Linked DNA regions of Homo sapiens: all the other regions are reported to be linked to region 1. Evidence: microRNA targets listed by miRTarBase, many of them from high-throughput screens and not tested one by one. Region 1 holds a microRNA gene; each other region holds the end of a gene's coding sequence.

Region 1 (5,419 bases):
GTTGATGTGCAAAAGCTCTGTCCTTTTAAGTGTAGACAAGGCTTCTTCCCTTGGAATTCTTGAAAAGGGACAGTGAGTCAAGGCAGTACTGGCACACAGGCTGAAAGAATGTGAGTGATGCACCAGGTCAGAGGGACCACTCTGTGAGGACATGTCTCTGTGGATGTAACCAAGTCAGGCCCTTTCTCTTGCACACAGCGTATTTATGTGTGATTGTACTGAGGTTTAGTAGATTCTCCAACATGTATCTGTACCCCACCCACCCTGTACCCCACCCACCCTCAGGACATGCAGATATAATGAATGAGAAGGAGTCCATTCTCCTCCCTGAACTGTACACTCCATGAAGGTAGGGAACCAGATATGGCTCATTCTCTTGTGGGCCAACTGCCCAGGACAGCACCTGCAATAGAGTAGGTAGGTACTCAACAAATAGTCATAGAAAGGATGGAAGGAGGAGGTAGAAGTGCTCTGTCCTATGCGAAGATGTCACTCCCCCTTGCAGAATCCTTGCCTGGGTGCACTGCATTCAGAAAGCACTCTCACCCAGGTAGCAAGGATTAGAGAGGGGGAACCAGGACAGGAGATTCCAGTACCTGTACACCTCACATGTGCATCTAACAAGAAGGCTTGCTGTTCTTGCCTAGTGCATTAACCTTGCATTGAACTAAAGTAGAGAGAAGTTGCTTCGACAAGTATCAGGCTGGGTGCAGTGGCTCACACCTATAATCCCAACACTTTGGGAGGCTAAGGCTGGTGGACTGCTTGAGCCTAGGAGTTTGAGACCAGCTTGGGCAACATAGTGAGACCCCATCTCTACAAAAAATAAACACAAATTAGCCAGGCATGGTGGCACAAGCCTGTGGTCCCAGCTATTTGAGAGGCTGAGGTGGGAGGATCGCTTGAGCCCAGGTGGTTGAGGCTGCAGTGAACTGTGATGGTGCCAGTGCACTCCAGCCTGAGCAACAGAGCAATACTCCATCAAAAAAGAAAGAAAAGAAAAGAGAGAAGAAAAGAAAGGAAAGGAAAGGAAGGAAAGAAAGAAAAGAAAGAGAAAGAAAAAGAAAAGAAGGAAGGAAGGAAAGAAGGAAAAAACAAGAAACAAGTATCAATGTGACAGCAGGAATGAGAAGACTCACACTTATGGGTGGGTTAAGGTGGGAAGAGGGTAGATAAGAAGTTCCTATGTGGCCCACTCACCCTCAGTATATGCAGGGGCAATGAGTGGTGACAAAGTCCATTCTCCTCTCAGGCTATAATATCCAGGAAGGCAGGGGCGAAGTCTGCCTTGTTCATTTCTCTGTGTCCAATGCCCATCATGGTGCCCAATACATATTATTTGTGGAAGGAAAGAATGAATGAGGGTCAGAGAGCAGGCAGGCAAGCAGCAAGCAGCTGAGAGGTGACATACAGATCTTCTGTTCTCCACGCAGAGGGGGCTCACCCTCTCAGAATCCTTGCCCGGGTGCATTGCATTCAGAAAGCACTCTCACCCAGGGACAAAGGATTAGAGAGGAAGAGCAGAGCAGAAGACTCAGGCACCTGCACCCTGCATGTATATCTCCATATATATTTGACTTTCATGGTCCCATTCCTGCAAAGTATCTCTGTGTGCATTTGCTAAGACAGATGCCTCTCCTCAGGGATAGCATATGTATTCATCCCCCTGCACAAGGCCACATGGACATGCCCTCTCAGACAAAACCTCAGACTAGAATGAAAGATATGAGTGGCATCTTTTTCAGATCACACTTGAGGGTCTGCAGGTGCTGGATGTATTTGGGGCCTAGCAAGGAGGTTGGGACAAACTGTATGTGGGCACACATGTACATGCACATGTTGGAAGATGGTACAGAAAATTGGGATACTTCATTCTCTTCTGTTTCTCTGGTAAACTATAAGCTCACTGAGAGCAAAGACTGGCTGTGCAAGTCTCATCACCCAATGTGTGTTTCCCCATTACAGTATCTGACACATAGTAAGCTGGGAGTAAACAGAAAGCTCATGCTCTCAAAGAGGTGTAAGCTTGTCCAGGGCAATGATGAAGTTCATTCTCCCACAGGTGCCCTCTACAGAGCCCAGGGACCTTAGCTGTCTTATTTACCGTTGTATCTCCACCACCCAGTGCAGGATCTGGCACCGCATAGCAAACACAAACATGTGAAAGAAGGGGACAGGTTGTTGGTCCTTCTACATGTAGACAAGGCTCAGCCTCTTTGAATCCTTGAATAGGTGTGTTGCACTGAAATAGCACTCACACCTAGGTTCCAAGGATTCAAGAGGGGGAGCAGACAAGAAGGCTCTGACACCTGCCCTTTTTGTGTGTTTGTATGTGTGCATGTGTAGCTATAACCAAGTCTCACTCTCATGTATATACAGTGTCATTTACTAGGGACTTTACAGAAAGGCAGAGAATCTTTTCTCCTGCAGAGTTCCATGTGAGATCAGAGAAGATTCATGCTTTTGTGTATGTTTGTGGGTGACAGTGGTAATGAGAAGTCCACTCTGTGGCCCACCCACTCTCAGGGCATGTAGGTGTAATGGATGATGAGGAATTCCATTCTTCTTCCTCAACTGTAGCTCCATGAGGGTAGGGACCAAGCATGTCTTGTTAGCAACTGTATGCTCATTACTCAACTTAGTATCATATACAGAAAAGGTGGTCAATAAATACTTGTGGAATGGATGATAGGAGGACAGAAAGACGCTCTGTCCTACACGAAGATGAAGCTCTCGCTCTCAGAATCCTTGCCCAGGTGCATTGCATTCAGACAGCACTCTCACCCAGGTAGCAAGGATTAGAGAGGGGGAGCAGAACACAAAGCCCTGTGAATGTTCAGTGAGAGGGCTCATTCTTCTTCACACAAGGTACTTACTTGTCATGATATAGAAGTAAAGAGAACAGTTCTTGAGCTTTGCATTAAAGATGTCTAGTTAAACACACATTTTGTCTGTTCTCTCAGATAGTAACAACAAAAAAGTATAAACCTATAAAGAGACTGGGAGGAGAGAGGAGTGTGAAAGGGAGGAAAGAGAGAATGAATATAACGCCAAAGCTCATGATCCCGCAAATGCTTTGTGTGACTATGCAACAAGAAGGCAGTACAGTTTAGCACAGTTGTTCTCTAACATGCACCAGAATCATCTGAAGACCTGGGTAATATACAGGTTACAGAGGTTTCTGACTTGGTGAGTCTGGGGTGAGACCCAAGAATTTGCATTTCTAACAAGTTCTCAGGTGATACTGATGCTACTGGTCCAGGGACTACACTGGGAGAATCACTAATGTAGTGGAAAAACCAGGCACTTTGGTATCTACGAACCTTGGTTCAAATGCACGCTCTACCACATATTAGCCTAGAGAATCGACCTGATTTTCCCAAGGTCAAGTTAAACACTTTTGAAGAATGAGGACAATTTAAAGCCTACCTCTTAAATGGTGTCAAGAAAATGAAATAAAGTATAGTACCTGGCACACAGCCGTCAATATTTTTACCTCTTACTCTCTATTTTTATGTATATATGTGTTTGAATGAATGTGCATTTTTAAGGGGGATGGTGAAACTCCTGCATGCAAGGGACAGGTGAGAGAGAAGAGGTCCGAGTATCTGTGAGTGTGAGTGCCTGCACAAGGGGATACACAGATTCATCCTCTTAAATTCCTCACGTGTGAGTTGATGAGGTTCTCCTTCAATCTCCCTAGGTCAACAAAGTTCACGCCCCTTCACATAAGGGATATGAAGGAAAACATCAGAAGTTCCACTCTCTCTGTGTGTGTGTGTGTGTGTGTGTGTGTGTGTGTGACAGAGAGAGAGAGAGAGAGAGAGAGAGAGAGAGAGAGAGAGAAAGAGAGAGAGAGAGAGACAGAAAATGAGTAAAGATGGGGGCATCTGGCCCTGTGAGTATAATCAAAAAGGCTCCTGTCTCTCCTGTCCCTGTATGCTCACATGTCTGCATATGCTGGGCACCCAGCCACATGTGGGCCTCCCTTGCATGCTCATTCTCCTGTATGCCTTGCTTGTGCACATGTGCATATACGAGTATTTGTGTATCTGTGATTGTGAGAGAGAACATTAACAAGGAAGTGCATCTTCATTCAACAGCTACCTAAGGGAAGAATGCCGAGACAGCTCACTGCCCTTTCTGGGAGGGCAAAGAGAGTAGAGTTAGGGCAGGAAGGAACCACCCACTGCTTACCTGATCAGTGGGACTCCGTGTATACAGGTCTACATCCCTAGATGCCTGACCATCCTGGGGGACAAGGTGGGGTGCTTGGGGGGTGGGAACTAAAGTAAATTCATTCTCCAGTATCCCCAGCATGTGTGCACACCTGCACAGTGAGTACAAATGAGCTTTATCCTCCTATATGTGCTAGCTAGGCAGTACACTCAGGGGACTGTGGCTGTACTGTTCTCTTCTGGCTCCCTACAGGAGTAAATAATACTGGCAGGCAGCAGGAGAGGTAGGCGATGTACAAGGGCTCTGTCCTTCCATCTGCAGCTAAGGCTCACCCCATCTGAATCCCTGCCAAGGTGCATTGCATGTGGAGAGCACTAGTACCAGTATCAAGGATTAAAGAGAAGGAGCAAATGAGAAGGCTCAGGCACCTGTACCCCAAGGATAGCATGGGAGTTAGGAAAGAAAAAGCTCCCCTTTTCCAGCCCCTTGAACACATGAAGGCAGGCTGAATGGGAATGATGAACTGTGTTCTCTGGCACAAGCTCACCCCACAGTAAAACCAGGGTCCCTGATGCTCTTGCCACTATTGGATCCCCAAATCCAACAGGCATTCAAAAAGCTCTCTGAAAGGAACTAGGAGAGGTGACAGGCACTCTCTGCTCTGTGCATAACATACCATCTGTGAGTCCTAGCCCAGGTGTACTGCACTGGGACAGCACTTGCATGCGGATGCTACAGATTAAAGAGGCAGTGTCAGCATATGTACCCAACTCATATGTGACAAAGAGGGAAGAGAGGGCTCAGTCTCCTACTCCTCTTTCTCTCACACTTCACATGCAATGTATCAGTAAACTCAACTGGCTGTAACTTTAAAATATAACCACTTTTTACTACCTTCACCACGATCACCCTGATGTAGGCCTCCATCCATCTCTCAACTGAATTATTTCAATGGCCTCCTAACTGGTCTCCCAGTTTCTGCACTTTCTCCTCCTATTTGCCATACAACAGTCAGAACCATACTTGTGAAGCAAAGACACAGAAAACTGTAATCCTGATTTTGAATCAGAAGTATAATGGAATCATGATGTATTTATCTAGAAACAAGAAAACACAAAAACAAAACATTTTTCTGTTCTGATCATTGTAGAAGCCTAAATACAATGACCAATCCAGAGGCAAATATGGTCTTTAAATATCATGTCTGATTAAAAGAAACCAGGGCTTCTTGAAGACATGG
Region 2 (5,419 bases), not on the chromosome of region 1:
AACATTATTTTTGGAACTCTATTGGAACTATGGGGAGAGATGGCAGGGCCAGTGAGTTCTCAAAGCAAGAGCTGCTGGGGTTCCCTGGGTGTAACTGGTCCTTCCCAACCCAGGACCGGGCCAAAGCCGAGGCAGTGAATAAGAGGCTCCGGAAGCAGCTGGCCGAGTTCCGGGCACCACAGGTGATGACTTACGTCCGGGAGAAGATCTTAAATGCGGACCTGGAGAAGAGCATCAGGATGTGGGAAAGGAAAGTGGAGATAGCAGAGGTGAGCCACGGGGAGCCCCAAGATGGGCAGTCTTTTATGTCTTCAACGTTTTCACTTAGGATTTTGTTCTTTGGGGTAAGAATACAGATGTTTGGATATGTAATTTCTGGGAGAAACCTCAGCAGTTGCTTTAACTATTAAACCAAGACGAAGGATGATTTGTTTTTTTTGAAAGTTCCCCCTTTTGCATTGTTAGGGGCAGAGTCTTTTCCATTTTCAGGGAGAAACTCTGTAGTAATAGTGTGTTTTTAGTTGCTTGTTATCTTAATGAATTCTAGAAGTTTCTGAATCCCTCTGCACTGGTAATTTAGTGATTGCTACTTTATACATGGAGAAGTCCATTTTTTTTTTAAATGAGATAGTGATGGATTTTTTAATATCACTCAGGACCTCATTCCATGCATGTACACAGTCGCCATGGGTCTTTCTGCTTTTGAACGAATCCCGCAGACTTTGAATATGGTACCATGTGACAGGAAGCACCCTTGCTCCTGTGAGCTGCGGGAGATAAATGGGCAATGGGAAACCATATGCTGGTGTCAGAAGAAAGACAAGCACCTAGGCTGCCGTGGCCAGGTTGCAAACTGAGGTCATGCAGGACATCATCAGAGTAGCTTAGAAAGCCAGTCAGGTCACTTGGAAAACTGGTACCTTGGCGTTTTCACATCTAGACCCTGGCTCCCATTTCCTGTGTTACTTTGTCCTGCCTCTCCTGCGGCCATTTTGCAGCAGAGAGTAAATTAGGATCCAAATTTGGGCCCCTCAGATCCGAAGCTGAGAAGTAGCAGAATCGTGGCAGGAACATGCAACTTCTCACTTTACTGAACAGAAGAAACATGCTCTATAGAAAAATCTTCCGGTGGGTGCTGCCCCTTTGTGGCCCCTACACAGCAGCATGCATGGAGGACACGCTGCCCCACACAGGGTTGCCTGCACCATCACGGGGCTGGATGAGGGCTGCATTCTCAGTAGCCACAATCAGTTTTCCCCAAGTGACTTTCTCCCCCATCTCCTTTATCATTTTTTTTCTTTTTTTCTTTTTTTTTTTTGCAGATGTCCTTAAAAGGCCATCGTAAGGCTTGGAATCGAATGAAAATAACCAATGAGCAGTTGCAGGCAGATTACCTTGCTGGGAAGTAGCCAGAGGCAGGCCACGGCTTACAGACCACTACATGACCTATAAAAGTAATCAGCTCCTTTCTAGTCACGGGCTCCTCTCACTGTTCCCTGTCTGCCTGGTGTTCCCAACCCCCCACCCAGGCTGCGTATCATCTCCTGGGCCACATCTGCCCATGGGGAGTGTTTTCACAGCCTGGCCCCTGGAACTGTTACCACTGAAAGAACCACAGGGCACTCTAATGGTTTGACACTTGTTAGCCAGCATTTAGTTCACAAGCATAGTGAAAGTGACCTTCCCACACCTGGGAGAGGGATAGAGGAGGGAGAGCCAGCCCAGTGTATGCCATGGGCTTATCCGTGGCAGCCCCAGTGTGCAACTATCAAAAACAGACATCAAAACAGCATGGTGAATGCCTGGCACTCAGCATTCTCAGTTTACTCTTCAGTTTGGTGGGGTAGCTCCTGGACTAGATACTGCTGCAAAAGAAAACAAGCACGAAGGAAACCAAGATGATTTCTTCGGGCTGATACAACCTGTTCTGACCTGCAAAAATCCTACCTTCCCCCACCTCCCCACCGTAATAGTCATAGTATAAGGGTTGTACAGACGCCTCAGGAGACCTGCCTGATTCCTTTACATCCTTCTCCCTAACATCTAGACTATCTCTAGAGCTGTTTCCTAGTCGTGAATGCGTGATGGTCCTTCTTTGTCCCTGCAAGTATGATCCAACATGGCCCAGTTCAGAATCAGAATATGTCTTCTGTGTCATGGTGGCATTTGGTCCATGGTGGGAGAAAGAAATCAACTTTTCCCAGTGGTGGAGTGAGGACAGGGGAGGGCCGGCCCTCTCAGCCTTGGATGTGATCCATTTGCTGTAGTCTTCCACCTTGGTGTACAGAAACAGGCCAGGGCACGTCTCACCACCGAAGTTCAGGACTCCTCTCAGAACCCACAGATCGAACTGCTGTAGCTGGCACATCATTGGGCTTCCTGGGTCCCCCTGTGATAAAAGACAGAAGGCTTCAAGTCTTAGAAAAACTAGTTTTTGTTGTAAATCTATCCTTGTGCAATATACTGTTTGTTCTAGAAATGTTTTACGCTGGTTCTCACTGGAAATGGGGCAAATTATAGGATACAATTTCAAATCTAGGCAGCCACCACCACAAATTCCAACAAGATGACTTTTCCTTTTATTATGCAAATTAGCTGTGGACTTCTGCTGATTGCCTATAGCTTCCTGGTTCATATTTCATTTTCTTGCCCCTTTCCAGTCCTTTGGCCAAACCTTCCCTCTCTTCTGGCTTCTCATTCCTGAAATGTTGGTGTTTGTTTCTGTTTTGTCCTGAAATGCTCACATTTTCCCTTCTCTGCCTTGCTTCAACCCTTAGTGTAAGCCACTTCCTGCCACCTGGCAACTGCTTACCAGCCTGGCTGGCCGTGCTCTGGGTCTTCCCTACTCCCAATGGAGCAGTCCTCTGGGACTTGGGAATTCTGCCACATACACTTTATCTAACTTAAAGTGACGGAGTAGAAGCTTGGCATCATTAGCTAGATATGGGACCCTGGCAAGTGACCAAATCCTCTCTGAGCCAAGGTGGGAACACAGTTAATGCCTGTAACACGTGCTGAGCACAGCACAGTGCCTGGCACACAGCAAACACTCAATAGAATATTAGCTACCATCATCCTGATGTCGCTATAAAGGCCAGCATTTTTCTGAAAAGTTGGGGAAAATGGGAAAAGCAACAAGGCAACTAGTAGGTATCACTTACCTTACCTGCCCAGACCCCACACCCCTAGGTCTCCTCTCAAAGGAATTCCTGCCCCTCCCATGGCCCATCTTGGTCCGAGAAGGGGGTGGTCATCCCCAGGCTAGCCAGCCACTTCTGACCTGTGTGGCCTGCCTGGCTGGAAGGCCCAGGCAATGACATGTTGCTCTCGCAGTTTGGACTGAGACATGGAATGGGGCCGCAATTAACAACAGGAAACAATCTGAACAGACTGAACCACGAGCAGCAGAAAGGCAGAAGAGCAGCCGCTTCAGCCCCTTACCATCCGAGACCTGGGTGTGTGGTCTGTCTTGGTCACTCTCTCTGTCTCTCTTTCTCTCTTTCTTTCTCTGTCCCCAAGGCTGGAGTGCAGTGGTGCAATCTTGGCTCACTGCAACCTCCACCTCTGGGATTCAAGCAATTCTCCCACCTCAGCCTCTCGAGTAGCTGGGGCTACAGCTATGCGCCACCATGCCCAGCTAATTTTTTTTTTTTTTTTTGAGATGGAGTCTTGCTCTGTCCCCCATGCTGGAGTGCAGTGGCATGATCTCGGCTCGCTGCAACCTCCTCCTCCTGGGTTCAAGCGATTCTCCTACCTCAGCCTCCCCAGTAGCTGGGATTACAGGCGCCCACCACCACACCTGGCTAATTTTTATTTTTAGTAGAGATGGGGTTTCACCATGTTGGCCAGGCTGGTCTCGAACTCCTGACCTCATGATCCACCCGCCTCGGCCTCCCCAAGTGTTGGGATTACAGGCGTGAGCCACTGCACCCGGCCTAATTTCTGTATTTTTAGTAGAGATGGGGTTTCACGATGTTGGCCAGGCTGGTCTTAATCTAACTTCAAGTGATCTGCCCGCCTCGCCCTCTCAAAGTGCTGGGATTAGGCATGAACTACCATGCCCAGTGGGGTATTCTCTTTCAATAAAGCTCCTCTTTTCCAAGGAAGCCACACCAGAACAGAGATGAAGACCAGTGGGAAAACATGGGAGCAACTCCGTGGGCAGGCCAGCGGGGAGGCCATGCTGCAAAGCTGCCGTGATTCCCTGGTGATCTCTCAGCAGGCCAAGGCCAGACATGTGAGGAAGGCCTTGAGGACTTCATTCTGTGCCTCTCCTTGGATGGAAGGGGGTGCTTTAGTGTGGCACTCCTGACTTTTCAATTGACTGGTGAAGAGGCCCTTGTGTGCACCTCACTATGTCTGCCTAGGTCATGGGGGCTCCCTGGCCAAGAATGACGTGGTTCCCCCTTTCATCAGTCCGATTCGCAGTTTGTCTTAACTGTAGTGGTATAGCCAGAGCAAGAAAAAGAATGTGATTTAGGACAAATGATTGGATGAGTGATTGGTAGATGTCCTCAGCTATGGCGTGGTTTTGCAGGTCACTGTTCCACCCACCTGGGCACAGCATATACGCTTTTTCTCTTCCCCATAATCCTGTAGGGGCTGCGACTTCTGAAGCACAAGAGGCAGAGGCGAACAGCTCCAGGTGCCCCTCTGGAGCTACCCTACCTCATCTCCCAAGGGAGCGGCCACAGCCCAGAGTGGGGTCTTTCATTTTGTGATCTTTTCCCTTGACATTCAGCAAAAGCCCTGACAGTGGTAGAATAAAGGCAGGATGGGTGAGTGCAGAGTGATTCTGCTTTTGTTGGGTTTCAGGGAAACCCATAGGCAGATTCTGAACCTGGTGGTTGATTCTACATGTGGGAATTGTGGCTTTGAAGACCTCTGGACATGAGAACATATTTCCAAGACAGAGGATTCTATGGGGACGGGTCACCATTAAATGGTGTGCAAGCATAATTCTGTTCAAAAATGAAGGCATGTTTAGAGGTGTGTCACAGTTAAAAACCAACCTGAACTTTGCAGTTAGATTTTAAAAGATGGTCAGTTAGAGTAGAAATAGCTTAGAATATTCCATTGAGTCTAAGATACAGTTAGAAATCAACATCTTTGAAATTAGGGTGTGTCTTTTAATCAGTTGATGTCAGAGTTTAACGGGCAGCATTTTTTTCTTTCTTGGGATTACAAAAAATGATGGTGCATTCTATAATTGGCAGCATCTTAGATCTGAGGAAGTATGATACTTGTTTGACGGAATGGTTGACGGCAGAATTTTGTTAAAAAGCTATATCTTCACTGTATTTTAACACATTATCTAATTTAAGAAATTGTTAAGATCCCCCACCTGGCAGAGGACCCAGTACAAAATAGGCACTCAATAGATGTTACACCAACTTTGGAAGGGCAAACATATTTCTTA
Region 3 (5,032 bases), not on the chromosome of region 1:
TTAGGCCAGCAGTTCAAGACCAGCCTGCGCAACATAGCGAGACCCCCACCTCTACAAAAGAAAAAATTGAAAAATTAGCCGGGCATGGTGGGGCACACCTGTAGCCCCAGCTACTCAGGGGGCCAAGGCGGGAGGATCGCTTGAGCCCAGGAGGTTGAGGCTGCAATGAGCCATGTTCATACCACTACACCCCGGCCTGGGCAATAGAGAGAGACCGTTTCTCTTTTAAAAAAAGCAATGGAAAATGTGACTTGATGGGTCTCCTGACCATGCCTTTCTGTGCAGCAGAAATTGGGTGGAAGCTGAGCTATAGCCACCTGTGGGCACTGCCATGGCCGCAGGGCAGCAGAACTCTTCATGTACCCTCCCACCTATACTCTTGCAGCCACTGCCTTGTGACAAAGAGATCTTAGGATTGTCCAGACCATGGCTGCAGCCGCAGGGTTTCGTTTTGTTTTGTTTTTGAGACAGGGTCTTGCTCCATCACCCAGGCTGGTGTGCAGTGGTGTGATCATGGCTCACTGCTGCCTTGACCTCCTGGGCTCAAACCATTCTCCTGCCTTAACCTTCCGAGTAGCTGAGACTGCAGGTGAACGCCACCATGCCCCTCTATTTTTTTTTTTTTAATAGAATCTCGCTCTGTTGCCCAGGCTGGAGTACAGTGGTGTGATCTCAGCTCACTATAACCTCCGCCTCCCAGATTCAAGCAATTCTCCTGCCTCAGCCTCCCGAGTAGCTGGGATTACAGACGCGTGCCACCATGCCCAGCTAATTTTTTGTCTTTTTAGTAGAGATGGGGTTTCACCATGTTGGTCAGGCGGGTCTTGAACTCCTGACCTCAAATGATCCTCCCGCCTCGGCCTCCCAAAGTGCTGGGATTATAGGCATGAGCCTCCTCACCTGGCCGCCCATCTACTTTTTAAAAAAATTTATTGTAGAGATAGGGCCTTGCTATGTTGCCCAGGCTGGTCTTGAACTCCTGGCCTCAAGCGATCCTCCCGCCGTAGCTTCCTTTAGTGCCAGGATTACAGGCATAAGCCCCTGCGCCTGGCCTGCCACAGATTTTTATCATTGGTAGGATCATCATTCCCATTTTACAGGTGAGCAAACTGAGGCTTGGAGTGGCAAAGGCACACAACCAAGGTCCCACAGCAGGATAAAGAGCAGAACTAGGCTTAGAAGCCAGGTTTCTGTGATGCCACAGCTGAGACTCTGCCCTCAGGGGTCTTACGAGTGTCCCCACCTTAACATTCATCCAGGTTTCGAGTTCTTTGAAGCCAGTGCCAAGGAGAACATCAATGTGAAGCAGGTCTTCGAGCGCCTGGTGGATGTCATCTGCGAGAAGATGAACGAGTCCCTGGAACCCAGCTCCAGCTCAGGCAGCAACGGGAAAGGCCCGGCCGTGGGGGATGCTCCAGCCCCCCAGCCCAGCAGCTGCAGCTGCTAGAGATGGCCCCCAACCCCCCACCCACCCCTCTCCTGCCTCGGCAGGGACTGTGATCGAGGCGTGAGCCACAGTGGTTATCTCCAAGCTCAGGGCAATCCCTTCCCTCCTGTCAACTGCTCCCCGACTCCTGCATGGCTCATTCCTTCACAATGTCGCCGTGGCTGCCAGGTTCCTCAGGCAGCCCCGGTGGGAGGCTGCGGACCATGGGGACTCAGCTCTGCATGGCAGGCAGAGGCCCAGGGACACTGACGTGCATGAGCTTGCTGCTTTCCAGGGTGTGTTGAGGGTGGCCATGGGTGACACGTCCCACTCTTTCTGATGGAGGGGCATCCGTGGTGCCTTCTAGCTTAGAACCATTTTCCAGGTCTCTTCTGGGTTGGGCAGGACTGATATTCCCAAGCTGGTGGAAGATGGTTCATCTTCCTCGCACAGTGTGGGTTCTTGGAGTTCATCCAGGGAAGGCGGCGCCTCTTTCTCAGGTCCTGCAGGCTGGTCTCTGAGCCTGCCCCCACGAACTTTCTGGATTCCAAGGTGGGATGGTGATCCCTTTGACCCCTGCAGACCCTCTACTTGCGAAAAGCAGCATTGAAGCAGCCTTTTCCCATTGTAGAAGGGACAGGGAGTCAGATCCCCTCAACCCCCCGGCTTCAGGGACCCCAGAAGTGCCTTCCAAGCTTCCCCCAAGATCCACATCACCCACGACCCTGCCACTGTTTTTGCTGTGTTCACCACATCTCTGATCCTGAAGTGAATTCTGGAACTATGGACCACATTAGACTGGGCAGAGATTCGCCCAACCCCTAGCACTCCGGCTCTGGGCTTTCGGCCAGAAGTTAATTAACCTCAGAGCCAGGAGCCTGGGGCTGGGGCCTCCCTCCCAGGCCCTGTTTAGCTGTTTAGCTGGTTGTGTTTTAAGCAAGTTCTTGCCCAATCATGCATCCTGCTAGAAAAGGAAATGAAGCAACGTTCCCAGCCACCGCAGGCAGTTGTCGGCGACTTTCTGATGTAAGCACCTGGGCTCCGACTTGAGGGGGGCCCTTCAAGACCCAATGTCCATTTCCCAATCCTTGTCATCGGCAGGGCCCAGGGATGTGACAATTTTTGCTAATGGAGGAGTCACTTCTTTTTTTTTTTTTTTCTTTTTGAGATGGTCTGGCTCTGTCACCCAGGCTGGAGTGCAGTGGTGCAATCATAGCTCACCACAGCCTCAAACTAGGGGTCACTTCTAAGGGATGCTGGGGGTTGGGCGGAAGGGGTGAGGAGGTAGGATTGAGTAACTTGCTGTCACTGCTTGTACTTTGTAGACAGCCTGAGAGTGGCAGGACCTTATGTGAATGGGGGGGATGGACTGTGATCAGTGCCGGGGAGTCTCTGAAGCTGGGGTCCCCACCTCCAGGGGCTTCTGCTCAGAGGTTACGTGTGCAGTTTGAAGATGTACATCTTGACCTCCGGTTTAGAGGCACTTTCTGCCCATCAGATTCCAAACTCTAGGGGCGCAGCACCTTTTCTTTGCTCCCAAACACCAACCAACACCCCTTCACAGGACCAGCACTGTTAGGATGGCTAAGTGGATGTTTTATGTTCCCACGTCCCTGACTCTGTTTCAGAGGTTGTGTCTGCTCTCCCAGCCCCTGAAGCCAAAATGACTTCCTGCAGCTTTCATGAGCTCAGCCTCTTCCCTGGGGTATGTGTGAGGGGGAAAGCCTGGTTCAAGTTTAGATTTATTTCTAGGGAGCCCTGGTTTCTTCATACCAGAGGCTACCCTTAGAACTTTGGAGTGGGGTATCTTTTTTTCATTTGTTTTTTTGATACAGAGTCTCGCTCTATTGCCCAGGCTGGAGTGCGGTGGCACAATCTCAGCTTACTGCAACCTCCACCTCCAGGGTTCAAGCGATTCTCCTGCCTCAGCCTCCCGAGTAGCTGGCATTACAGGCACCTGCCACCACACCCGGCTAAATTTTGTATTTTTAGTAGAGAAGGGGTTTCACCATGTTGGTGAGGCTTGTCTCAAACTGACTTCAAGTGATCCACTTGCTTCGGCCTCCCAAAGTGCTGGGATTACAGGCGTGAGCCATCACGCCCAGCCGAGGGTATCTTTTATACCAACAAATTAGATGACTGAGGTGTAATGGACAAATCCTATGCACAAAGTGAGGGTATCTGAATATGTGGGCGGGAGTCAAAAATTTTTAGCTACTTTAACACTAAAGTCAAACTAAAGTAGCTTCAAAAAGACTTCTCAAGATGCAGTATGGCCTGCTGAGGTTTTTTTGTTTTTTTTTTTTTTAAGACAGAGAGTCGCTCGTCGCCCAGGCCGCAGTGCAGTAGCATGATCTCAGCTCACTGCAACCTCCACCTCCCGGGTTCAAGCGATTCTCCTGTCTCAGCCTCCTAAGTAGCTGGGACTACAGGCACCTGCCACCACGCCCATCTAAGTTTTGCATTTTTAGTAGCGACGGTTTCACCTTGTTGGCCAGGCTGGTTTTGTTGGCCAATTGTCTCTAAACTGCTGTCAAAAAAAGGAATGGATCAGATTGTCTTGAATAGGGCAGAGCTAACCTGTAATCACCTGTGTGATGAGAAACAGCTTTGACTGCATTTTACTCCTGACCTGGCCTAAGCTTTCTGTTTACATAAGATTTTTCAAGAATTCAACTTCAAGTAGCAGCCGAGAGAGCTGCCTCAGGATTCTCTCAAAAACTGGGAATAATATGGGAACATTTGTTTCTTCTAAAAATAAGGCAAATGTTACATTGAATGATTTGGGGGGTGAGGTTTAATTGGAAATGGTCTCTGGGGACTGAAAACTGATGTTTTTGCAGATTACCTCAGGGAAACGGAGGTTTGTTGAGTTTACAGACACATTAAACCAAAGGCCGTGGGAAAACCCCTCTCCAGCTCCAGGGGATTGGTCAGGACCACCCACTAACCAGTGCCTTCCTTCTTAACATTCACTTTTAGCAGCTTGTGTTTATTTTACATGGGCAGTTTTGATGGGAAATTGCCATGACCACAGGGGTTTGGAGTTCTGCTTTTTTTTTTTCTTCTTCTTTTTCGGGGGACTGGGGGACTCCTCCCAAGATCACATTTTAGCATCTTTCTCTCCTACTCCATTTAGAAAAATAAGTAACAGGTGAAATGTGGTCTCAGTGTTAACGGGATAATTCTGCTACCGGCTCCTCCCTGATGATTCTGAAATACACTACTGAACGAGCTCTGGCTGGTCCTTTCTATCCTGGATGTGGTTCTTCTGTGTAGCAATTCCTTGATGTCCAGTTTGGAAAGATGTACTCTTCTCAACAAGAAAAACTTAAATCCGTCGTGCCCAAATATAGTTGTGCTTTTATTTCCATTAGTGAAGTGCGTTTCTGGGAAAGGGGGTTTGATTTGCAACTAAGCAGATATCAGTCAAGGGCTCTTCAAGACACAGCAGAAACCTCACCGGGCCTCGGGCTGCCTCCCACTGGGTCCCATGGCCACCACCTTGACCTTGGAAAGCTCTGTTATATGGAAGGTAGGGAGGACACTATTTCCCTCAACTACTTCTAGTAAAAAGCTCAGTTCTCTCCCCAGCAGCAAGAGGGC
Region 4 (5,419 bases), not on the chromosome of region 1:
CGTGCGCCGTATGAGTTAGCAGCAGTTAAAACTGGAATTATTTCATGGGACAGTGTAGAGTACAGACTTCACTGATTGTTATAACTAAAAGTACATTTCTGAGCAGAGGAGTGGAAAGTGTTACATGTGTGGGAAACCACAGGTCTTGGTGCTTATAGGAGATGAAACATCCCACATTTCACTATGGTTTTAATCACCAAAGAAAGAAAACGACAGTTTGTATATAGATGGGTAAATGATGTCTCCAAGTATGGTGTACAGTTGCTCAGACAATTCTTTATGTGGCCATCTTCCCACTACATTTTTTTATTTATTTATTTGAGACAGAGTCTTGCTCTGTGGCCCAGGCTGGAGTGCAGTGGCACGATCTCGGCTCACTGCAGTCTCCACCTCCCGGGTTCAAGCATTCTCCCGCCTCAGCCTCCTGAGTAGCTGGGATTACAGGCATGTGCCACTATTCCTGGCTAATTTTTTTGTATTTTTAGTAGAGACGCAGTTTCACCACGTTGGCCAGGCTGGTCTTGAACTCCTGACCTCAAGTGATCTGCCCGCTTTGGCCTCCCAGTGTGCTGGGATTACAAGTGTGAGCCACCGTGCCCGGACCCTACTGCATTTTTAAATCACTCAGAAGCTTGATTGAAAACCTGTGATCGGAGACAGTGATTCTTCTCAGAACCACAGCTTTCCTTGTTGCTGATGAGAATTTATAGCATATGTAGCATAGGCTTGTTGGAACAAATACACAAAAGTTCTAAATTGTTTTAGATAATTAAAATGATTTTAATTAACATGACTAATTTTGATACCATATTTAGTCTTATGTGGTGTTGCTAGGAGACCTGCTGCTTTGTGGGAAAGCCAGAATCGTTGAAATCTGCCTGAGTTCCATCAAGTGCTAGCTTTTCCCTTGCTAGCTGTAGGACTTTAGGCAGGTGGCTTAACTTTGCTGATCCTGTTTCCTCAGGTGTAAAACGGGGATAACAATAGTAGTACATGCCTCCTAGAGTCATAAAGATTGTGAAAACAAGTGAAACATTTACTCTGACACATGTAGTATGCACATGCCATGTTACCACGACAGGGATGTGAGAATTGAAATTATGCCTGTCAAGCACTGAGCACATTATGTGACACTAGGCACTAAGGGGCAGCTGTCACTGTCATGGTTGTGGCTTCCAGTACAGTGAGGACGTCAACGGTTAAAAATGTACTTTTTCTTTAGCCAGGGAGGCAAAGTGTCACACTGAGACAGAATAACCTGCCAGCTCAGAGTGGATCTCATGCTGCTGAGAAAGGCAACAGCGACTGGCCAGAGAGGCCTGGACTGACACAGACTGGCCCTGGACACAGACGGATGCTGCGGAGACACACGGTAGAGGATGCGGTCGTGTCCCAGGGCCCGGAGGCTGCTGGCCCCCTCTCCACTCCCCAAGAGGTTAGTGCTTCCCGGTCCTAACAGGAATGAGGAGTTGTTGAACCCACTGCTAGGAAGCAAGGATGCAACAAGATGATGCTGAGCGTGAACACATCTGAGAACTAAATGTGCTTCCATGAGACTGGCTTGAGAAGTCTTCAGCACCAAGTTCCTGAAAGCTTTTCTGTGGCAGGAAAGAATGCAACAAAAAAGTTAACCACCACCATCTCTCTCCTCTTCAAAGCTAATGAATACAATTGAAACAGACAAAAATTCCAGTAGCATCCAGATCCTTAAGCCAGAGGTGCATGCTTCTTTTTAAGTATGAGGGTTTGTTGGTCACAGTGGGAGAGGTTTCACCACCGCATTCTGACCTCCTCCTCCCAAAAGGTGCTAAACCTCTCTGACCTGTGTACATTCACAAACCACAGCTAGAATTCCTCCACCTAGGATTAAGCTGGAGAGAAGTAAGTAATTTAGGTTTCATGGTACTGTAGAGGCCAGGCTGAAATGTCATATCTGAAGGAAGAAAGCAGCAGCTGGACAATGTTTCTTTGCAAAGCAACACTCGAACCAAAAGATGCCTCAATCCCATTTTGATATTCATTTTAGTGAAAGGATGCATCAGACCTGTTCCACATCATGCACATGGGAAAGGGTGGTTATCATTTTCCTTCTAACAAGTAGGTACAGATATTCGGTTACTACACGTGCACCTGTAGCAGTATTTCTAGAAACATCCCTTTTTGTTGAGAACCTCCCTTGAATGTCTGTCACACTCACACCTGACGGGATGGTTACTGGATTAGAGAGTAGATTTGGCACATCTTTTCTTAGTCTTTTGATTCAAATTCAAAACTTAACAGCACAAACCAGGTCAGAGTTACTTTCGGTTAGAATTTATTGCCATTTATTCCTTTTTATAAATTTCTATAGATTATACTGTTATTTTTATGTTATTGGCCTAGAGCTACACGTATATGGGTTTGTCCTGAGTCCGTTTTCAAATGACCTTGTGATAGGGAAATGGTTTTGTCCATGTTCTTGGAAATACTTGTGTATGTACAGAAGGAAGGGAGGGATTATTTTTCTACAAAGTAATTTATGATTTCTAATTTTCTAATGTGCCTTGGATATGTGCCAAATGATGGAAAAGAAACAGTAAACTTTATGATTCTTGACTGTGTCATGGTATTTTTTTTTAGTTGTTTGGCTGCAGATGATATGTTTCTCAGCCTGTCTGCTGTAAACATGTGCTTTGTGTGTGAGAAAAAGGGTCCCCATTGAATGGATATACATTTTTCAGTTATAGATGTGAGATTGAAACATGGGAACTTGATCACTTAGCTCATTATTCATCTACTGACCAAGGCCTACTTAACCCAGTAGGCACAGTGTCCCGGGCCCACAAAAATGTTTTTCTTTGGAAATCAGAAGAATAAAATGAATACAGCTTCCTACCCCAAACAAACAGGAAATGAGCCCTGTTGCTTTGCTAATTTCTTTGTTCTGATTTTTCCTTTTCCCTTTTTTTTTTTTTTTTGAGATGGAGTCTCGCTCTGTCACCCAGGCTGGAGTGCAGTGGCACCATCTCGGCTCACTGCAGCCTCCGCCTCCCAGGTTCAAGCAATTCTTCTGCCTCAGCCTCCTGAGTAGCTGGGACTATAGGAACCCACCACCATGCCCGGCTAGTGTTTTTTTTGTTTTTGTTTTTTTGTTTTTGTATTTTTAGTAGAGACAGGGTTTTTCACCGTGTTAGCCAGGATGGTCTCAATCTCCTGACCTCGTGATCCGCCCGCCTCGGCCTCCCAAAGTGCTGGGATTACAGGTGTGAGCCACCATGCCCAGCCTTCCCTACTTTTAAACAAAACCACCTTATAGACTGAAGCTGCTGTGGTTCTATACCATCCTAATTAATACATCCTATACAGTTTATCAGCACAGGTATTCTCAAGATACAAATACACACATTTGACACCACCTAATATGTTGGGGTAGTGCAATATAATTTTGAAAACATTTTCTTGAGATGATGGAGTCTCGCTCTGTCACCCAGGCTGGAGTGCAGTGGCACCATCTCGGCTCACTGCAGCCTCTGCCTCCCAGATTCAAGCAATTCTCCTGCCTCAGCCTCCCGCATAGCTGGGATTACAGGTACCTGCCACCATCCATGCCTGGCTAATTTTTATATCTTTGGTAGAGATGGGGTTTCACCATGTTGGCCAGGCTGGTCTTGAACTCCTGACCTCAAGTGATCTGCCCACATTGGCCTCCCGAAGTGCTGGGATTGCAGGCATGAGCGACTGCGCCCAGCTGAAAACATTTTCACATATACCCATTTAATTTCAACAATCACTGTGAATGGTAGAATTGTCAAATGAGGAAACAGGTTCAGAAAAATAAGGGGACTGCGAGGGATCTCACAGCCAGGATCAAGGCCTGGTTGGCAGTGGCAGCTGCAAGCTTGGTGTACCCTTCCTCTGGAGAGGTAAATGCTGTTTCTTTTTGAGCTATTCTGGTCATCAGTAATGTTTTCCATCTTAAGTGACTCCCTCGATTATTTTTAAAAAACAGTTGTCATCCTGGCCAACATGGTGAAACCCTGTCTATACTAAAAGTACAAAAATTAGCTGGGTGTGGTGGCGTGCGCTTGTAATCCCAGCTACTTGGGATGCTGAGGCAGGAGAATTGCTTGAACCTGGGAGAGAGGTTGCAGTGAGCCAAGATCATGCCACTGCACTCCAGCCTGGCAACAGAGCAATACTCCATCTCAAAAAAAAGCAAACAACCAGTTGTTTTTTCCAATTGCTTTCCCTACCCAAAACTTGATGTGACAGTTGAGAAATTAATGCCCCTAATTTCCATTTTTGTGGAAAAAAGTTTTGAATTCAAAGTAACGCAAGTTCACTGATTTAAATTAGAAAGTTTAGAATAACCACTCTCCACTCCCTAAAATGTACTCCAGCCTCTTATTGCCATCAGGAACCTCTCTCCTTGTACATGGAACCACTTTTCACTCTCAGGTAGGTGTCTGAAAGAGTCTGACCATCTTTAAACACACTCACAGCAGTTGCCATTAGGACAGTGGTTATCCTGTGAGAAAGCACAGAACTTGTGAACTGCCTCATGTCCTCCTAGCATTTGTATGTAAATGAGGCCTAAAGCAAAATTTACCTGTAAATGGGATTTTTTTCAAAATCCCCGACCAAATTTTTTTTAAATTACCAGTTTACCCTGACAGAAAATCCCCAGCCAGATTTCATCTTATGATCATTCTTTTAAAAATATGTTGATGTTCTCAACGGTTCTACTTATTTATAATGTTAGATATTGTTCTATTTCTTCACTGACAATAGTTGCAAATTTCAAATATAGTAGAATCTCCAGTTTAAACATGTATCAGTAGTATGCTGGCTAACGCAGAGACTGGGGTTTGCAAACCACATTTCCCTTCATTTTTTTACTAATCCTATTCACCTTGTTAAATTTATGAATTTAATCCTGTGCTAGGTCTCACAGGACTACGACATTTAAAAGGTTACACCAAACAGCTGGTTGATGGTTAAGTTTATGATTTAAATATATGAGCAGTGGCTTGCACCTACAGTCTCAGCTACGAGGGAGGCTGAGGTGGGAAGATCAGTTAAACTCAGGAGTTTGAGGCCAGCCTCAGCAACACAGCAAGTCTCCGTCTCTGAAAACCGTAACTTATGAGTGCAGGTTTTCATAACCTAGTGGAAAGAAAGCACAACAAAAGAGAGAACATTTAAGTCACCTGCAACATTATCAGTGATATGTTACCAAAATGTTTAAATGCTGAAGTGTCTCAACTGGATTTGAAATCATTAGAAGTCATTTCTCTTACAAACATGTTTATTACTGTAGTAGCATTACCAACATGTCTATTTTGGTCATTTTCTTTTTCAGTCATTATCACTCTAGTTATTTTGGAGGGAGTGGTATTTGTTAATATCAGTACCTCTGAAAAACAATTATAAATGAGAT
Region 5 (5,419 bases), not on the chromosome of region 1:
ACATGCCTGGTAGAATCCTGTATCTTGTGATAGAGCAGACTGCAGAGCTTTGTCTCGCTGGCCTGTTTTCTCATCCACAAAATGGGGATAAGACTTACCTTATGAAATTGACACTGGTGCTATCCGAATCAGATATCATGAAGAGAAAGAGTCCTGAGAGTGGCGAAGCCATGTCCAAGTCCCTGCCAGGAGTCTCTAGCAGAGGAGTCGCTGCCTCTCTCACCTGCATGTACAGAGGGACTGGGTTCAGGGCACTGGCGACAGAATGTCTCACTGCGAGAAACTGCCTGGGACATCCTGACTCCTCTTCCGACTCCTTGCCGTGCTTCATCGGGCAATCATCTTGGCCACTGTGCCCATGGGTATGGGTATGGGTTTAGGCACCACATATAATGCCTGTGGTTCTTATGGAATGGGAGGCCCCAGTTCTCTCAGGCTGCATTTTCCAGCCTGCTGGGAGGGCTGGAATCTTTGTGGGAGAAGAGTGAGCCATACTGCTTCCGGAGGGAGGAAGCCAGGGGGCTGAACAGCAGTCACCCTTGGAGTGACAGGCAATTTGGGTGGGATGGACGAGCTAGAAAATCAGTCTGTGGCTCCTGGAGTGCTGCAGCCCCACTCCCATCCACCCCTGTTCCCCGGAAGTGGGGATACCAGGAGACCCAAGGTGATGGCATGAGGCTGCGCAGGAGGCGGGGAAGGGAGGGAGGAGAGGCGCTTCTGGTAGAAAAGTAGTCAATCCACAAAAGAGTGCAGTTTCACATGTTTATTTTTGGCAGGAAGGAAATCATTGCAAACCTTTTGATTGACAATACTCGCCCCTGGAAACGTGCACATTCCGCATGTAGCATTTCCTAAGTAATGCTGGATTGTTTATCACATTCAAATGTCCAGCAGAAATCCATGACTACCCAGACACCAGCATCTCCACTACCCGGGGTGGGGGAGGGTGTGTCAGTCTGCAGAGAAGCTCCTGGGAGAATGGAACAGGAACAGACATGATCAAAGTTACAGTACAGTAGGAACAGAGGCAGCCAGCCAATTTTGCACAGTTAACTGCAAGTACGTCAAGCCATTCACTCTTCTCGAACCCTGGCATGCCAACTGTCCAGCACAGCACCTTTAAAAGCAGAGGCACAAACGTAGGATTGTTTGACCATAGGGCTGTGTGGTTCTGGATTTTTTATTAGAAAGCCATCTTTAAAAATACAGGGTTGTAAAATGTTGCCAGGTTACAGACTTACAGGTTTTTTTTTTTAACACCAAAAGTTCAAATGCTGCAACCATGACAAGTCAGCATCATTAGGGCATCCTCGTGTCCCCAGAGACATCTCATCAAAATTGCACCACGTCAAAGGAGCTTCCTCACCATCAACTGTGGCAGGTGGCATTCCTTTTTCAGTATGCAAATGCATTATTTACAAACAGCTAATGCATGGAACCACAGACCAACACGTAGGATTCCAGAACAAATGGAAGACAGAGCATTAACAACATTGGGAGTGCCTGTGCACTTCCACTGGAGGCCTGGCCAGAGAAGTAATAACATCATAGTGGGCTGCAGTCCACAAACCCAAGGTGTCCTGTCCCAGAGCTCAATGTCAAAAATACTTCTCCAGAAGACTACATTTAAACCTGGTACAGAAAGGAGCATGGAAACTCAGGAGGTCAGGGTTCTCTTTTGGCTAAAGAGTTGGGGGTATTTTGGTAACATGGGAAGTATATGGCACAGAGAAGTGGCTAACAGGTTTCATTAGGTTTCAAAGCCCACAATTTAATACATGGTAATAATTAAAAACAATACCCGTATTTACCTTAAAAAACATAAACCCCAAACATTCGTCTCATTTCTTGGCCTTATGTTAGAATTCTATTGCTTCATTTACATGTAGATGATTAAAAATATATAGATATAGATATAGATATAGATATAGATATTTTGATTATGTACATAAAGCAGATTCAAGGGTTAAAATAAAAACAGAATTTTGGAGTGTGGTCAAATAAGGTGCACAGATTCCAGAACCCTCAGAGGGCCTGCTGGCCCTCTCCAGACATTCTGTGTCCGTGGTGCAGGAGCTGGGCCCGTCCCTAACAGCTCCGCACTGGCTTAGTGCAGTGGTGCTCACAGTTTCAGGAACTACTAGGTGAAGTGTCTGGCTCAAGTCTGCCAAGTGTCTTCACTCCATCGTCAGAAGTGGAGCACTATCCCTAGGTTCGATTCCCATGAAATATTTTATGATTTCCATCCTCTTTGCCCGCTCTTCCAAATAAGGCCCTGTGATGCCAACGAAGGGGGCATGGTTGAGGGTCTAAGGCTCTCATTAGGGCCTAATTCTGTGTGGATATCAACACATGACAGACACTTGACTGCAACATTCAAGACATTTAAGGCAGTGGGTTCATTTAATGACTACTTTTCCAAATAAATATTTGTGGCATGGGCAGTTCTACCATGTAACTGTCATTATCTGTGGTAATATCTAGCAAGGGGCTGTTCTATTTGAATTGGCATGTGGATTACTGGTTTGGAACACTCAGAATGCTGGGAGACCTGTTTACCCCCTGAATACTTACTTCCCTTCTGAATATTCACACAGCAGTCCACAGACCAAAGTGCTGTTGGGAGGATGTAATTGGCAGCTGGCTTCATTACTTTGTGAATGAAAGCAAAACAAAGATATTTTACTTTGACCCCCGATTTCCAGTCTTGTTAATGCCAGTCACTCCCACCAGAATGCTGGCTGAAGACCAACCCACAGAGGACTAAGGCAATGGTGCCAATATGAAAGGGTTCTTTTTAATTGTTTTTAAGAGCAATACTTTACAGACTGTCTTGTTGTCAAACAAGGAACATGGCACTGCTTAAACACCAAACTGGGAAAGGCTGCAAAGAGAGCCTGGGCTCTCCCTGTGGGAGCTCTTCCTCTCCCTGGTTTGGGGCAATGAGTCCCACATCTAGACAGGCTTCCCCAACCCTTGGCTCAGAAATAGGCTGTGCTTCAAAGGAGAAGACCAAGAGATGGACTTGGGCCACATCAGCTTGGTGGCTGGTTGAGGCCACAGGTTCTCAAGAGAGAACAGTCAGCTTATTTATCAAACAGGATCTGATACTGACTGCAGTTTAAAATCCATGCTACACCTAAGTGGTGCTGTGGTCCTTTTGCCTTTGTACCCTTCAGTGGCCAATGCCAGGAAGGGGTTACAGGTGGTGGAGGCTGCAATGGGATGGGACACCTCTGTTTCTGACCCTGTCCGAGTTTGTAGCTTAGCAGTGAGCATATTCTGAGCATAGGCACAGTGGCAAAGAACAGTGTAACAGCCGCTGGTCAATTCCATTTGGTGGCAGCGCGGTAGCAGCAAGGAAAATTCCCAAACAGCTCCATGTGTATCCAGCTTTTGGAAAGGAAAGATTTAAAAATCAATAAACAGATTTCTTTTATATCCAAGGGTTTTAGGGTTTCTTGTAACTGCTCTACCCAAACAATAACAACAAAAAACACAAATGTATGGCAGTAGTGTGAGAGCAGAAGTGACAGGATGTCACTTTTCAAGGAGAAAATGTGACCTCAAGACAAACTTGTCACCATCAGAAATAATAATATAAAATAATCTATTGTTTCCTAAAGTGTTGAGCCACACAATTGCAGATACATTCCAAACTGGGTCAAAAATGAGTGGAGACAATGACATAGTCATGAAATCCTCCTATCAGGAGCCTGACCCTGCAGCATGCCACAGGTTGTCAGAGCAGTCACACCTGTTGGGGGACAGGCTCCTGTGACTCACTCCCCTCCCTCAGCACCCCCCGCCACACACACACACGCTACCAGGTTCTAGAAAATTGTCATGTTCATCTTCTTATAGTATCTAAGACAATAAAAGACTAAAAGATGTCTGGAAATATGTTGTGTAGAAAAATTAACTCTCGGCTTAAAATAACATTCAAAAGGCACTTCATCCTGTAGGAAAGAGATTCTGAGTTGGGTCAGCTGCTCTGAGCTGGGATAGAAGGGGACAGGTGGTCTGCTTGGAGGGGAGGACAGTTGAAAGGAAGTCTGATAGAGATCAAGCTTTTTTTTTTTTTTTTTCTATTTTTTTCTTTTTTGGTATGTTTTAAGAAAAGCAAACCCAGTAAAATGCATGTCCCTTTATGAAATTTCTTAAAAGAGTTCTTTTAAAATAGTTGTTTCTGTTCTTAAAAAAACAAAACAGGTAGGCATGGCCACATTCACCCTGTGGCCTGGAGCACGGAGTATCCTCACTTTCAGCTCCCAGGGAGCTGAGGACAGGCAGGTCCCCTGAGGCCAGAGGTTCCAGAGTGCACAGGCGGGAGGCAGGCAGAGGCCAGGGCTACCTATTGCAGAGTCTGTGCAGCATGCTGTACACGTCGTCCTCCCGGCTCAGGCCCTCAAAGAAGGGGATGAGGTCCAGCAGCTCCGTGTCCGTCATGTCATCGAACCAGGACTGCACAGGCACCTGGAAGACAGTGCATGGAGGAGGCAGCAGGACTGCATCTAGCGCTGGGGGCTGCTCCTAACCTAACCGGGTACCCGGACTTTGAGCACTTTCTTTAGTAAGGACGACTGGTGTCATCATCGTTATCATCATGATTTTGTTTGTTCCCTTGTTCAAATTGAGGCCAATCCAAAGCTAAATGGCTTGGGAGATGGCTCAGGGAGGCAAAGTTAAATGTACCCAGTTTGTGTGCATTTGCCTGTTTTGTTTTCCTGCCACAGAAAAAGGTGGCCAGAGCATAGAATGTATGAGAACTAGCCTTGCTACTTGCCAACTTCCAAAAGCTCTTTCTACTGCACAAGATCGGTTCCTTGCACCTCAGAACACTTGGAGCCAGAGCTTACAAGCCAACCACTGACAGCGCGGAGCTCACATCCAGGACACAGGAAGGCTTCCACTTAGGGTCACTGTGCAATATTACATCACAAAGAGAAGTGGTAAATTTCCTCCCTTGCTTAACAGTGATCAGTTAAAAGTAAAAGTCTAAAATTGCAGAACATTCTGAAGCTATGGGCAAAGACAGGATTTTCCCTTAGTTTTAGGCAGAGGAGTGGGGAGGGGTGGTAGCCAGGGGTACAAAGGAGAGATTTATAAACAAATTTGAATAAACCAAACATGTTTAAAAGTAACATTTTAGCCCTTTTACAAATCTAAAGATAGCTTAGAAACATAGACATTTATTACGTAACTTTGAAAAATAAAGTAAGGACTAATAAAGAAATGACTACGCCTAGGGGATGGGGAGAGAGTGGAGGAGAGGGCAGAAATGGACACACTTCTCTGTCTTTATTTATAGTTTTGATGTCGGAACCATGTAAATGTGTTATATAATTAAAATACAATTAAACCATTAAGAAAAAAAGCAATAAAAGTGAATCTAAGTGTATATAAAATTGGTGACACA
Region 6 (5,419 bases), not on the chromosome of region 1:
CATTTCTAATTTTATCAACTGTGGAGGATTACAAGTAGAAATATAAGTGCAAATTGAGGATGCTGCTTTAATGGTTCCTTCTTTAGTGAGGTTTTGAATTACTACATCATAGTACTTAGGGAGTCTTTTGGACATTTACTATCCCCTCCTATGTTCTGCAGTAATTTTTCTTGGGATACCTTGTTAATTTTTTAAAAATTTTGTGGTAAAATAATACCTAACATAAAATTCACCATCTTAACTCATTTTAAATGTTCAGTGGCATTAAGTATATTCATACTGTTTTGCTGCCATCACCACCATCCATAGAACTCTCTTCATCCTACAGAACTACAACTCTGTACTCATTAAACAACTCCCCACCCCAGCCATCACCATTCTATTTTCTTTCTCTGAATTTGACTACTCTGTACCTAAGTGGAATCATACAATATTTGTCCTTTTTTGTCTGGCTTATTTCTTATTTCATTTAGCGTAAAGTCCTCAAGGTTCATCCATGTTGTACCATGTGCCTGAATTTCCTTCCTTTTTTTTGAGACAGTCTTGCTCTGTCGCCCAGGCTGGAGTGCAATGGAGCAGTCTCAGCTCACTGTAACCTGTGCCTCCCAGGTTCAAGTGATTCTTCTGCCTCAGCCGCCTGAGTAGTAGCTGGGATTACAGGCATGCGCCACCACGCCAGGCTAATTTTTGTATTTTTGGTGGAGACAGGGTTTCACCATGTTGACTAGGTGCAGTGGCTCATGCCTGTAATCCCAGCATTTTGGGAAGCCGAGGCAGGCAGATCACCTGAGTTCAGGAGTTCGAGACCAGTCTGGCCAACATGATGAAAACCTTCCCTCCTAAAAATACAAAAATCAGCCGGGCGTGGTGGCGGGCGCCTGTAATCCCAGCTACTCGGGAGGCTGAGGCAGGAGAATTGCTTGAATCCGGGAGGCGGAGGTTGCAGTGAGCCGAGATCGCACCATGGCACTCCAGCCTGGGCGACAGAGTGAGACTCCCGTCTCAAAAAAAAAAAAAAAAAATTCTATTATATGTGTGTACCGTATTTTGTTTATTCACCTGTTGATGCACACTTGGGTGATACCTTGGTTATGGGGAAACATTAATGATAAATATGTGAAAGTCAGGTTACAAAACATGTAGTGTGATCTAACTTTTGTAAAATGACATAATGTAAAAATTCCCAAAGAATAACTAAAACATTGACAATAGTTACCTCTGGAAATTGAGGATATTTTGCTCATCTCTATTTCCTCCTTCTCTGTAATTATTATGATTTGGATTGCTTTTGTAGTAAAAATCAGTAAAAGATAAAAGCTAATGTAAATGTTAATAATTATAGATGCTCTTACAATATGTTAACTGTTTAATTGGCAGGCAGGTGTAATGCTTACCTATTGGTGGAAACCCTATGGGGCCTGAACTGACCTTGTAGTACTTTGGACCTGAGATGACTCTGGGACCAAATTATATCTGTTGCTTGTCTTTTAGGAAAGCTATTTTTGATACACCAGATGAGGATCCAAATTACAATCCACTACCTGAGGAACGGCCAGGAGGCTTCGCCTGGGGTGAGGGCCAGCGGCTTGGAGGTTAAAGCAGCAGTGCCAATAATGAGACCCAGCTGGGAAGGACTCGGTGATACCCACTGGGATCTTTTATCCTTTGTTGCAAAAGTGTGGACACTTTTGACAGCTTGGCAGATTTTAACTCCAGAAGCACTTTATGAAATGGTACACTGACTAATCCAGAAGACATTTCCAACAGTTTGCCAGTGGTTCCTCACTACACTGGTACTGAAAGTGTAATTTCTTAGAGCCAAAAAACTGGAGAAACAAATATCCTGCCACCTCTAACAAGTACATGAGTACTTGATTTTTATGGTATAAGGCAGAGCCTTTTCTTCCTCTTCTTGATAGATGAGGCCATGGTGTAAATGGAAGTTTCAGAGAGGACAAAATAAAACGGAATTCCATTTTTCTCTCACTGTATTAAAGCTTTTGTGTGTGATCTTTTAAATTCTGATAATGTATTGTAGCCCTCCTGCGTAGATCTGAGCTCAGAACAGTTTACACAGCTGTTCTTCCTGTGTCTTCACAACTTTTAACTGGATTTCATTTCAGGATTGGAAATACGTGGCTGTCATGCTGTGGTTGTGTACATCTTACTAACTCAGAATGCAAGATTCAGCAGGAAGATGATTTATTTCTGTCATCTGGATAGGTTGTTTTGCATCTGGGTTTTGCCAAACTTTGTCAGACAACATGAAAAAAAAGGAGGGAGGATGGTTCTTGTAGCAGTAGGAATTCAGCTATAGGAAAGTCAGCTGTAAGCTAATGTGGCATCTTATTTGCTTTACTTACATTTCTCCATTAAGAAGTATCCAGGGAAAGATTGGTAAGGGCCACATTTTTGTAAAACTAGGAAGATTTTCATTAGACTTTTTTTTTCTTTTATTTTTAAAAAAGTTTTAATTAAAAATTTTTTTTTAAATACAGATGGGGTCTCACTGTGTTGCCCAGGCTGGTCTTGAACTCCTGGACTCAAGCAATCCTCCCACCTCAGCCTCCCAAAGTGCTAGGATGACAGGCATGAGCCACCATGCCCAGCCATTTTTTTTTTTTTTGCCTTTTTTGTTTTGTTTTGTTTTTTGTTTTTTTAATTAAAAAAAAAAAATAGAGACAGGGTCTCAGATTTTCATTAGATTTGGAAACCAAGTTAGAATGTTGACTTTGGAGCCAGACGAACAGATACCAGTTAGCTAGGCATATGTTCTTCCAGGGTCTTTGGCTAGTTAACATTAGTCATTTGCTTCGTGAAAATTCAAGAACCTTTTCAGAGCCAAGTACCTGGATTACCTTCCCAATCAGGTAGAAATTAGACAGGGTCCACAGAAGTAGACACTTAATGCTGTGGTTCAATAAATACTTCCCCTAAATATTAAGTCTTCCCTGAGTCTCAGCAGGTTTGCATTCACACTGCTTAAGTAACTTCCAGAACCTGGAAGAGTCGAAAGAGCACCCCTAGGAAAGAGATGATTCCAAACAGCTTTCATTAACGGCATGTAGGCACAGGTCCCTTTCCCAAAAGTGGATTGTTAGTAGTAGTTCATTCAACCTTTGTTAAGGGGTAGCTTTCCAGAATGTGACATTGTCCTCAGAAAGATAGACATAGGCTTAAACATAATGGACATCCTAAATAGGAATTTTCAGATTGTTTTTGAAGTGAAAAGTGTTTTAATGTCTTTAAATGGAATTGCATAACTAATGGTATTTAAGTATTTTACATGTTGCTAATAACTTTGAATATGATTGTTGCAATTTTATGGAACCTGGGTCTATGGGACTGCTTTTTAAGCAGTTTAAAAAAGGTTTTCAAAGTTTAAAAGCCAATCTTAGCATGTATAATCCTTATGGGATTCTTAAGTTTTATCCTATCTTGTTTTTGCTCAAGAACGCTTTATCAGTGACGTTTGTTAGAATTTTGTTTTTTGTTTTTTTTTTTTAAATTGTTTTTGGGCTAGAAATGAGTTTCTCTAGTTTTATTTGTTCTCCCTGAGTTGGAGTTATGCAATGAATGGCATTTTTGTGGTAAAATACTAATCCTAAAATCTGTTAACTCACTGTTCATTTAAGTAGGGAATATCTGTATACATTAATGACTAGGTAAAACAGGAAATACATTTTGAATATACAGCCTAAAGGCAGGCAGTTACAGGGTTTTTGATTTCTCCGATTTTATAGGGTGCAAGTTCCCAGTGGCAGGATGCCCTGCTGTGTGACTGACTACACTGTGTCCTGAGCAGTGGTAATTTCAATCACCTCTCATCAGTTTGGCCAGCCCTACAACCACCATTCCTAGCCCTGTGTTGCTTGACAGGATACCTGTGCTTGAATGGACATAAGGAAAAGTCCTTACTTTCTCCCCAATTTACCTCTCAATCTTAGTTCTTCCAGAACACACTTCCCTTTCACAATGCAAATAAACTGAAAGTGAGATTTGATACATGGAATTTTGAGACCAACCAACTAACCTTACACATAATTTGAGGGATTCCTGGATTCTTCTAGTGATACTGAAAAGCACACTTGACTAAAGCATAGTGTTTTTTGTTTGTTATGGAAATACGGTATACGTTCATTTAAAAATAAATGGACATACAAATTGCATCTCCTTAGGAGATACATTTTATATACATTTCGGTGCGTTTTTTTCCAGTATGGATTTCTATTTGTTTCTCTCTTCCTCTTGTTTTTTCTGTGTCACTCTTGTATGTCCTCATATCTTTCATACCTCTTGTGTAGTCTCTAGAAGCAGAACACCTAAGTCCTGGGTCTGGATAATGAAACCCTCAGTCTCTGGGGCCTCTGAAAATAAGGAAGCATTGGAGCTATTGCCATGTTGAGTAATGGGCTTCCTAGAACTATTGTCATCTATCCTGCCAGTGTTTTATGTTGTAGCTGTTTTTCTTTGACAGGTGAGTTCCAGCTATGTTGTTAGTCATGATCCTGCCATTATTTTCTGTGTTCTGTAGGATGTCTCCAGGCTACTTAAACATATTTTATGAGTTTGCAATAAAATTGTTGAATCTTGTATGATCAAGTCACTCCTCTGCTCAGAAATCCACAGTGACTTCTTAGTAAGCCCCTACATTATATGCATACTTGTTTTTTTCTTAACTTTACTCCCACTTCTACCTAACAGGGACCTCAACTTAAGTCTCTTCAGTTCTTCAAGGCCTGGCCTTGTTCCTGATTCCTCAAAAAATCTTGACTCTAAGGCCTATTTTATTGTCTGTCTCTGAATCCCTATAAAGCTTCAAGTCTGTATGACATTCTTAACGCCAAATTATATATTGTCTTGTACTGTTCCTAGCTGGTACATGTATATTAGTCTTGTCTCCCTCATGAGAATGTAAGCTCCTTAAGGGCAGGGACCATGTCTTAATTTTTGTATCCACCACAGTGCCTAGCACAGTGCTTGGCACATGGGTGCTGAATAAATACCTTTGTTTATTGATCAGCAAAGTATTATCTGGTATTTTTAATTATAGAGGGATTAAAGTGTATGCATGCAAGCTTGAGCCTAGTTGCTGAAGCTTGTGGTTGTCTCTGAAAGTGGGATAGAGGGAAACTGAACATGATCAAGGGCAGTAATTTGGTGGTCGGAAAAGCAAAGGTGACCACCAGCTGTTATGGTCGTGATCAGACCAGTTAAGTCCACAGACCATCCCAGACAAGTTAAAAATGAAATGTGTCTGACACTTCGTCGTTTGAAGGAAGAACCAGGATATTCTCTGAATAGTTATTAGCTTGTCAGTATCTACATATGAAAGCTGGTGAACCCCAAGAGACTTCTTCAGGAGAAACAGCAGATTTCAGTCTACCAATGGGAGAAATGTGAGCAGCATGGCTTGATG

What was found. Region 1 holds the annotated microRNA hsa-miR-500a-3p (AUGCACCUGGGCAAGGAUUCUG, at 2,741-2,762, opposite strand). A microRNA usually pairs through its seed, bases 2 to 8, with sites in the 3' UTR of a target mRNA and lowers its output. Matches are read on the target gene's strand: a 7mer-m8 pairs with bases 2 to 8, a 7mer-A1 pairs with bases 2 to 7 and ends in A, and an 8mer does both.
Region 2: miRTarBase lists CFAP263 as a target of hsa-miR-500a-3p. Seed matches in the 3' UTR shown: 7mer-A1 at 3,533-3,539.
Region 3: miRTarBase lists RAB3D as a target of hsa-miR-500a-3p. Seed matches in the 3' UTR shown: 7mer-A1 at 2,630-2,636.
Region 4: miRTarBase lists ANKRD27 as a target of hsa-miR-500a-3p. Seed matches in the 3' UTR shown: 7mer-m8 at 1,717-1,723.
Region 5: the mRNA of CTDSPL is a reported target of hsa-miR-500a-3p. Seed matches in the 3' UTR shown: 7mer-A1 at 1,339-1,345.
Region 6: miRTarBase lists DERL2 as a target of hsa-miR-500a-3p. Seed matches in the 3' UTR shown: 7mer-A1 at 3,744-3,750.

Annotation. Positions count from the first base shown.
Region 1 is chrX:50,005,825-50,011,243 of GRCh38, reverse strand. MIR500A (microRNA 500a) reads right to left here and starts at 2,813; the gene lies at 2,730-2,813. The region is part of intron 3 of CLCN5 (chloride voltage-gated channel 5); the gene reads right to left. MIR362 (microRNA 362) reads right to left here and starts at 2,280; the gene lies at 2,216-2,280. MIR501 (microRNA 501) reads right to left here and starts at 1,522; the gene lies at 1,439-1,522. It also overlaps MIR500B.
Region 2 is chr16:58,278,369-58,283,787 of GRCh38, forward strand. It overlaps CFAP263 (cilia and flagella associated protein 263), which reads left to right. Exons shown (of 9, transcript NM_014157.4): 8 at 114-269; 9 at 1,323-5,419. The coding sequence ends at 1,409. PRSS54 (serine protease 54) reads right to left here. Exons shown (of 7, transcript NM_001305173.2): 7 at 1,629-2,389. The coding sequence ends at 1,856. Among named protein-coding and RNA genes, the nearest start is that of PRSS54, 14 kb to the right of the region's middle. RefSeq lists a silencer at 2,637-2,931.
Region 3 is chr19:11,321,813-11,326,844 of GRCh38, reverse strand. It overlaps RAB3D (RAB3D, member RAS oncogene family), which reads left to right. Exons shown (of 5, transcript NM_004283.4): 5 at 1,260-4,777. The coding sequence ends at 1,447. It also overlaps a transcript of TSPAN16 not described here. Among named protein-coding and RNA genes, the nearest start is that of TSPAN16-AS1, 3.0 kb to the right of the region's middle. RefSeq lists an enhancer at 2,388-2,597.
Region 4 is chr19:32,594,182-32,599,600 of GRCh38, reverse strand. It overlaps ANKRD27 (ankyrin repeat domain 27), which reads left to right. Exons shown (of 29, transcript NM_032139.3): 29 at 1,223-2,595. The coding sequence ends at 1,456. Among named protein-coding and RNA genes, the nearest start is that of SNORA68B, 12 kb to the left of the region's middle. RefSeq lists an enhancer at 5,413-5,419.
Region 5 is chr3:37,979,799-37,985,217 of GRCh38, reverse strand. It overlaps CTDSPL (CTD small phosphatase like), which reads right to left. Exons shown (of 8, transcript NM_001008392.2): 8 at 749-4,476. The coding sequence ends at 4,351. Among named protein-coding and RNA genes, the nearest start is that of VILL, 8.3 kb to the left of the region's middle.
Region 6 is chr17:5,470,862-5,476,280 of GRCh38, reverse strand. DERL2 (derlin 2) reads left to right here. Exons shown (of 7, transcript NM_016041.5): 7 at 1,492-5,027. The coding sequence ends at 1,597. Among named protein-coding and RNA genes, the nearest start is that of DHX33-DT, 4.5 kb to the right of the region's middle.